Homo sapiens: one gene and its partner. The protein of the gene in region 1 purifies or fractionates together with the protein of each later gene. This does not show direct contact. Each region holds a gene or a part of one and is shown on either strand. Other genes may lie near its edges.

Region 1 (3,816 bases):
CCCAGCATTTTGGGAGGCTGAGGTAGGAGGCTCGCTTAAGCCTAGGAGTTCAAGACCAGCCTGGGCAACAGAGCAAGGCCCAGTCTCTATTAAAAAAAAAAAAAAAAGAAAAAAGAAAAAAAAAAGGATGGGGCCCAGGTAGCAATATTTTTAATTTTTTTATTTATTATTTTTATTATTATTTTTTGAGATGGAGTCTCCCTCTGTCACCCAAGCTGGAGTGCAGTGGCACGATATTGGCTCACTGCAACCTCTGCCTCCCGGGTTCAAGCGATTCTCCTGCCTCAGCCTCCCGAGTAGCTGGGATTACAGGCGCCCGCCATTACACCCGGCTAATTTTTGTATTTTTAGTAGAGACTGGGATTCACCACGTTGGCCAGGGTGGTCTCGAACTCCTGCCCTCAGGTGATCCACCCGCCTCGGCCTCCCAAAGTGCTGGGATTACAGGCGTGAGCCACCGTGCCCGGCTGTAGCAATATTTTTAACAGCTCTCTTGGGACGTATACAGCCAGAGCTAAGAACCACCACCTATATCAATCATGATCCATATATCAATCATACTCATGGCTGGGTATATTAATGCCGTGAACAAGGAATTCTGCAAGGAATGTGGAATAGGTTTGGAGACGACAGCAAACGGGGGCTACCACAGCTTCCTCCTCAGGAGGGTATCATCCTTCCCAGCTCAGAGCTGTATCCCACCAGTTTAGCAACACCAGTGTAACAAATGAAGTCTTTCCAAAAGAGCTCCAGCACGCAGTGGCTCACGCCTATTATCCCAGCACTATGAGAGGCTGAGAAGAGCGGATCACTTGAAGTCAGGAGTTCAAGACTAGCCTGGCCAATGTGGTGAAACTCTGTCTCTGCTAAAAATACAAAAACTTAGCCGGGCGTGGTGGCAGTCGCCCGTAATCCCAGCTACTTGGGAGGCTGAGGCAGGAGAATCGCTTGACCCCGGGAGGCGGAGGTTGCAGTGGGCAGAGATTGTGCCACTGCACTCCAGCCTGGGCGACAGGGCAAGACTCCGTCTCAAAAAAAAAAAAATCCTGTGGAAGATGTCCATTGGCTGAGCTTGAGTCACATGCCTGTTCCCTGAACCAAACAGTGGGCCGAGAGCACCCTCATCCTGTTGGCTAGATCAGGTCATGGGCCCACCCCGCCAGGGCTTGGGGGAAGTCAGCCCAACACACATGGACTGAAAGTAGGGAGAGGGTTTCCCTAAAGGAAATTTGGGGTGTGGAACCCAAAATAAGGGAAATGGATGCTAGTCAGGCAAAAGCAACAGACATCTGCGCACACCTTTGTCACGCTGGCCTTTGTCTCTATCCCCCAGAGTTTCTTGGTCACAGGACGTGACCCCAGCCAGGCCCTGGTGTTGAGGTCAGGACCTTTACCAGGAGAAGTCAATACCTACCAGATCCAGAAGATTCCCAGAGGTAAGGCACCTCCCCTGAGGTTCCAGCCCACAGTCAATTGATCACTAAGAACTATCAGCTGGACCGGCGCGGTGGCTCACGCCTGTAATCCCAGCACTTTGGTAGGTCGAGGCGGGTGGATCGCTTGAGGCCAGGATTTTGAGACCAGCCTGGCCAACATGGCAAAACCCCGTCTCTACAAAAAATACAAAAATTAGCCGGGCTTGGTGACGCGCGACTGTAATCCCAGCTACTTGGCAGGCCGAGGCACGAGAATAGCTTGAACCCAGGAGGCAGAGGTTGCAGTGAGCCAAGATCACACCACTGCCCTCCAGCCTTGGCAACAGAGGGAAACCCTGCCAAAACAAAACAAAACAAAAACACCTGTCAGCTTTGTTTCCAAAATATCTGATGAATATTTCCAATCCTGTCTCCCTTTCCTTCCCACAATCCATTCTGAGCCCAAGATATTTTTCAGTATCAATCAGATGTTATACACCCCTGCCCCAAATCCTGCAAAGAGCATGCAACGTCCTTAGATACAAAATGTAAACTCCTTGTCATGATCTATAAGGTGCTGTGTGATGTAGTTCCTTCCTGTCTCTCTATCTATTGCCCCTCATTCACTCTGCCCCATACACACTGTTACACTCTGTGTGTCTTTAGCATGCTAAGTGTGTTCCAGCTTCAGGACCTCTGCTTGGGTTCATCCTGTATGAATGCTTTTCCTAGAGGGGCTGGTTTAGTCTCCATCCTCCAGGCCTCTGCAGAAATGTAACCTTTCTTGACCATCATAGTTAAAAGATGGCACCTTGGTCACTTTCTTTTTCTTTTTTCTTTTAGACAGAGTCTCACTCTGTCGCTCAGGCGGAGTGCAGTGGCCCAATCTCAACTCACTGCCACCTCTACCTCCCAGGTTCAAGCAATTCTCATGCCTCTCAGCCTCCCAAGTAGCTGGGATTACAGGTGCACACCACCACACATGACTAATTTTTTGGTTTATTTTTATTTTTATTTATTTATTTTTTATCGTACTTTAAGTTTTGGGATACATGTCCAGAATGTGCAGGTTTGTTACATAGGTATACAGGTGTCATGGTGGTTTGCTGCACCCATCAACCCATGATCTACATTAGGTATTTCTTCCTAATGCTATCCCTCCCCTAGGCCCCCACCTCCCAATTTTTTGTATTTTTAATAGAGATGGGTTTTGCCATGTTGGCCAGGCTGGCTTGAACTCCTGACCTCAAGTGATCCACCCACCTCAGCCTCCCAAAGTGATGGGATTACAGGCGTAAGTCACCATGCCTGGCCTCTTGGTCACTTTCAATCACTCCATTTTCTTCATAGCACTCAATACAATATCCACTTTGTTTACTCGTTTTTAAAATTTATTTTTATTTATTTATTTATTTATTTATTGAGATAGTCTCACTTTTGTCGCCCAGGCTGGAGTGCAATGGCTTAATCTCAGGTCACTTCAACCTCCACTTCCCGAGTTCAAGTGATTCTCCTGCCTCAGGCTCCCAAGTATCTGGGATTACAGGCGCCCACCACCATGCCCAGCTAATTTTTGTATTTTTAATAGAGATGGGGTTTCGCCATGTTGGCCAGGCTGGTCTCGAACTCCTGACTTCAGGTGATTCACCCACCTCGGCTTCCCAAAGTGCTAGAATTACAGGCGTGAGCCACCGTACCCTGACTGTTTATTCATTTATATTCTGCCTTTTCCCCCTCCGCCCCCCGCTAAAAGGTAAGCTACAGGAAGGCAGTGAACTTGTCTGCCTTTTGATAACTGTATCTCCAGTGCCTAGAAAGGACTAAGGGCTCAGTAAATGTTTGTCTAATGAATGAATCCTTGTTGGTGGCATAAGTGGTACACAAGAGTAAAGATGGAGACTCCAAAGAGTGGGAACTTCCCTGTTCTGAAGGTCCCTGGGGGGATTCTGAAGGAATGGAGGAGCAAGAGCATCCCAGGGGACAGAAAACTGCCACCACTCAAGTTTACTTTCTCCTTCTTCCTCCCCCCACCACAGGTGTGTCCCTGGAATCCTCCAACCTCTGCATGCCAGACCTGCCCCATCTCCTGGCCTTTCTATCAGCCAGCAGGTACAGGTCACCCATCTGAGGCACTAAGGGGGACCCTTCCCTAAGACACCCCACTGACACTGTGGCTCCCACCTCTTTATTCTCAGGGATGTTCTGCCCAGAACCCTGCTCTTGCCCCCTCCCACTCTAGGGCCCAGAGATGAACACACAGGTGAGGCACGGTTCTCTAAAGAGGGCACAGCCAACCTGCCAATTTCCTTGCTCCAAGGGAATGAATGGGGCTTTGGGGCCCAGACTACTGGGTTTGAGGAGAATATAGAACTGGAGACTAGAGAGAGCTGGGGGCCTGGAC
Region 2 (3,816 bases), about 20 Mb from region 1:
GCCGAGATGATGCCATTGCACTTCAGCCTGGGTGACAGAGCAAGACTCCATCTCAAAAAATAAAAAATGAGGCTGGGCTTGGTGGCTCACACCTGTAATCCCAGCACTTTGGGAGGCCGAGGCAGGTGGATCACCTGAGGTCGAGAGTTCAAGAACAGCCTGACCAACGTGGAGAAACCCCGTCTCTACTAAAAATACAAAATTAGCGCATGCCTGCAATCTCAGCTACTTGGGAGGCTGAGGCAGGAGAATGGCTTGAACCCGGCAGGCGGAGGTTGCGGTGAGCCAAGATTGCACCACTGCACTCCAGCCTGGGCAACAAGAGTGAAACTCCATCTTGAAAAACAAAACAAAAAAAAAATGAAAAGCTGGAAACGCCCATCCCTTGGACTAGTCATTCTCCCATTTCTGAGATACATCCTGGAAATCATGTCAATAGAGCATCAGCTGTAATGAAAAGTCAGTAGGCCGGGTGCGGTGGCTCATGCCTGTAATCCCAGCACTTTGGGAGGCTGAGCGGGGTGGATCACGAGGTCAGGAGATCGAGACCATCCTGGCTAACACAGTGAAACCCCGTCTCTACTAAAAAATACAAAAAAAAAAAAAAATTAGCCGGGTGTGGTGGCGGGCGTCTGTAGTCCCAGCTAGTCAGGAGGCTGAAGCAGGAGAATTGCCTGAACCCGGGAGGCGGAGCTTGCAGTGAGCTGAGATTGTGCCACTGCACTCCAGCCTGGGCGACAGAGCAAGACTCCGTCTCAGAAAAAAAAAGGAAGAAAAAAAAGAAAAGTCAGTGACACAGTCAGCGTCCAACCTCTGTGGGTTAAATCATCAGCACATCTCCCCAGTGGAGTATGCCGCCTTCAGAAGGCACCCATGTGAGCTGGCAGCCCAGTGTGAGGGAACTGAAGCAAGGCCAGTCAGTGAACATGCTTCCACTGTTCTAATAGGAAAGGCTTATGTCATCAGCTTGAGGCAGAAATTTTTTTTAAAACTGGGATATGTATAGGATCACAGCTCTATTAAGATAAATCTTTGCTGAAACTGGCAGGAAACACCTTAACAGTGGTTATCCCTGGGTTCAGGGTGGGATTAGTTCCACCAGAGGGGAACCTTGGTGGTGCACCCAGCCGTGTTCTAGATGGGGTGTTGGGGGGCTCCACTTTCTCCCCCTCATGGGGGTCTACCATTGAGTGCCATTGTAACCCCCTCCCCGAGATGGGCAGACCCTCCAGGGGACTGTGATGCATCCTTGGACCATCCTGGAGGACACTCAGGGTGAAGCACCAGCTGAGACCAGGAAGGGGCCCCCACACCCCGATGCCTGCTCGCCCTAGCAAGTGAGCCTCCCCAGCTTGGCCTCTCAAATCCATGTCTGAACTCACCCGGCTGTCAAGTGTCTTTTCCAAATCTGACCAACTGTTCCCTTCTCTCCTGAACAGTTGTTGCTTTTACCTCTTAATCTTTGCATATGTTCCTCACTGGGTCACACGTGTACCATGACCCAGGATTACAGAGAAGATGCTGTCATCTCCTGTCCTTCTGTCCCACCCTCTTGAGGTACCGGATGTTAGCAGGGCCGTAGACACACAGGCTCACCTAGAAACTGTCTAAGGGGTCTCTTGCTGCTCGCTCACTATTTATCTTATTTTTTTGAGATGGAGTCTCACTCTGGTCCAGGCTGGAGTGCAGTGGCCCAGTCTTGGCTCACTGCAACCTCCGCCTCCCAGGTTCGCGTGATTGTCCTGCCTCAGCCTCCCGAGCAGTTGGGACTACAGGCGTGTACCACCACGCCCAGCTAATTTTTTTATTTTTAGTACAGACGGGATTTCACCATGTCGGCCAGGCTGGTCTCGAACTCCTGACCTCAGGTGATCTGCCCGCCTCGGCCTCCCAAAGAGCTGGGATTACAGGCGTGAGCCACCGCGCCCGGCCTCTGTAACACAAAGGGACTTCACAGCATCCTTGACCCTTTAATTCACATTAGTTGCACGCCTTGGTGCTATGACCATCCCTCCAGATTCACAAGTGCAGGTCCAGCCCCATCTTGTTCAGCACTGTAACATGCTTTCAGGGCTGTACATGCATTCAGTTCTCTCCCGTGTTCTGCCATGTGGAGCTGGGCCAAGACTCTCCCTTTTGGCATAGACCCCAAAGACAGTCCTGTGGACTGGGGATGTGTACGGTCCGAGAGGCGCCAGTAGGTGCGGAACATGGCTCTGAACCCAGCGCCACCTGCTGTGCTCCTCAGGCTGGGTAGGGACAGAGAAGACCTGTGCTCCCAGCCTCACTGGAAGCCACACTTCCCTGAGGCTGCCTGCCCCCACGTGGGGTAGAAATCAGCTCCTTGGTCCGTTCTGATGTTCATTGTCTCAAAGATGCATTTGAGAAGCCCTTGGGATCAAGACAAGTCCCTCTGCCCTGTCTCGTGTCTGGTGTCTCCCCACAATCTGAGATTTTTTGGTGTGAATGTCTCACTTTTCCCAGGCCCTGGGGAAGGGTCTGAGGGTCCCTGCCCTTTCCCTTTGTAGCAGGGTGAACAATGACAGTGTGATGGGTGCCTGATAAAGACAGGGTGAGGATTGGAGTGACTCAGTTCAAAGGAAGGGCATCGGGCCACCAGAACCAGCAGTCACTGCCAGGAGGCCTGGCAGGGCAGGAGGTCATGGTGGAGACCGTGACTATGACATGACCATATAGTGACCCTGGCCAACGTGGGCACACAAGGCCAGAACTGCTCCTGCCCAGAATCAGGGACAGGGCCTCGGGCCCAGCTGACACTGCACCCCCCAACTCTCCTTTGCAGCTTTCTGTATGAGCCCAATAGCCAAGGGTACAAGTACTACCGACAGAAGCTGGAGGAGTTCCGGAAAGCCAAGGCCAGCTCCACAGGCAGCTTCACAGCACCTGATCCCGGCCTGAAGCGCAAGTCCCCTCCTGAGGCCCTGTCAGGGTCCTTACCCCCAGCCACCACCTGCCCCGCCTCGTCCACGCCTGCGCCCACTATCATCCCTGCTCCAGCTGCCCCCGGGAAGCCAGCCTCCGCAGCCACCGTGAAGAGGAAGCGGAAGAGCCGGTGGGGGCCTGAAGAGGATAAGGTAGAGCTCCCACCTGCTGAACTGGTGCAGAGGGACGTGGATGCCTCTCCCTCGCCTCTGTCAGGTGGGCAGACCCTCTCCCCCTCCCTGTGTTGGAAGGGTCTGACTTCTTTCACTGAGCATAATGTCTTCAAGGTTCATCCACAGTGTAGCTTGTATCAGAATTTCATTCCTTCTGTGGCCATATCTTCCACTGTGTGTACATACCACATTTGGCTTACCCACTCATCTGTGAATGAACTCTTATATTCACAGAGGTTGTTTACACTGCTTGGCTGTTGTGAATAATACTGCTGTGACTATCTGAATCGTTTTCAGTTCTCTTGTCGGTATACCTAGGTGTGGAATTGCTGGGCCTATTGCAATTCTGCCTTTTTTTTCTTTTTTCTTTTTTCTTTTTTTTTTTGAGACAGAGTCTCGCTCTGTTGCCCAGGCTGGAGTGCAGTGGTGCGATTTCAGCTCACCATAAGCTCTGCCTCCTGGGTTCACACCATTCTCCTGCCTCAGCCTCCTGAGTAGCTGGGACTACAGGTGCCCGCCACCATGCCCGCCTAATTTTTTGTATTTTTTAATAGAGATGGGGTTTTACTGTGTTAGCCAGGATGGTCTCTATCTCCTGACCTCGTGATCTCCCGCTTCGGCCTCCCAAAGTGCTGGGACGTAGAGATGGGGTTTCACCATGTTGGCCAGGCTGGTTTCGAACTCCTGACCTCAGATGATC

What was found.
Region 2: the proteins of RINL (region 1) and SUGP1 purify together in Homo sapiens (affinity purification with mass spectrometry; one large-scale study listed by BioGRID and IntAct). This does not show direct contact.

Annotation. Positions count from the first base shown.
Region 1 is NC_000019.10:38,871,506-38,875,321, reverse strand, and holds part of RINL (ras and Rab interactor-like protein), read left to right. Parts: intron 1-1,333; coding exon 1,334-1,436; intron 1,437-3,451; coding exon 3,452-3,524; intron 3,525-3,610; coding exon 3,611-3,675; intron 3,676-3,816.
Region 2 is NC_000019.10:19,296,332-19,300,147, reverse strand, and holds part of SUGP1 (SURP and G-patch domain-containing protein 1), read left to right. Parts: intron 1-2,803; coding exon 2,804-3,159; intron 3,160-3,816.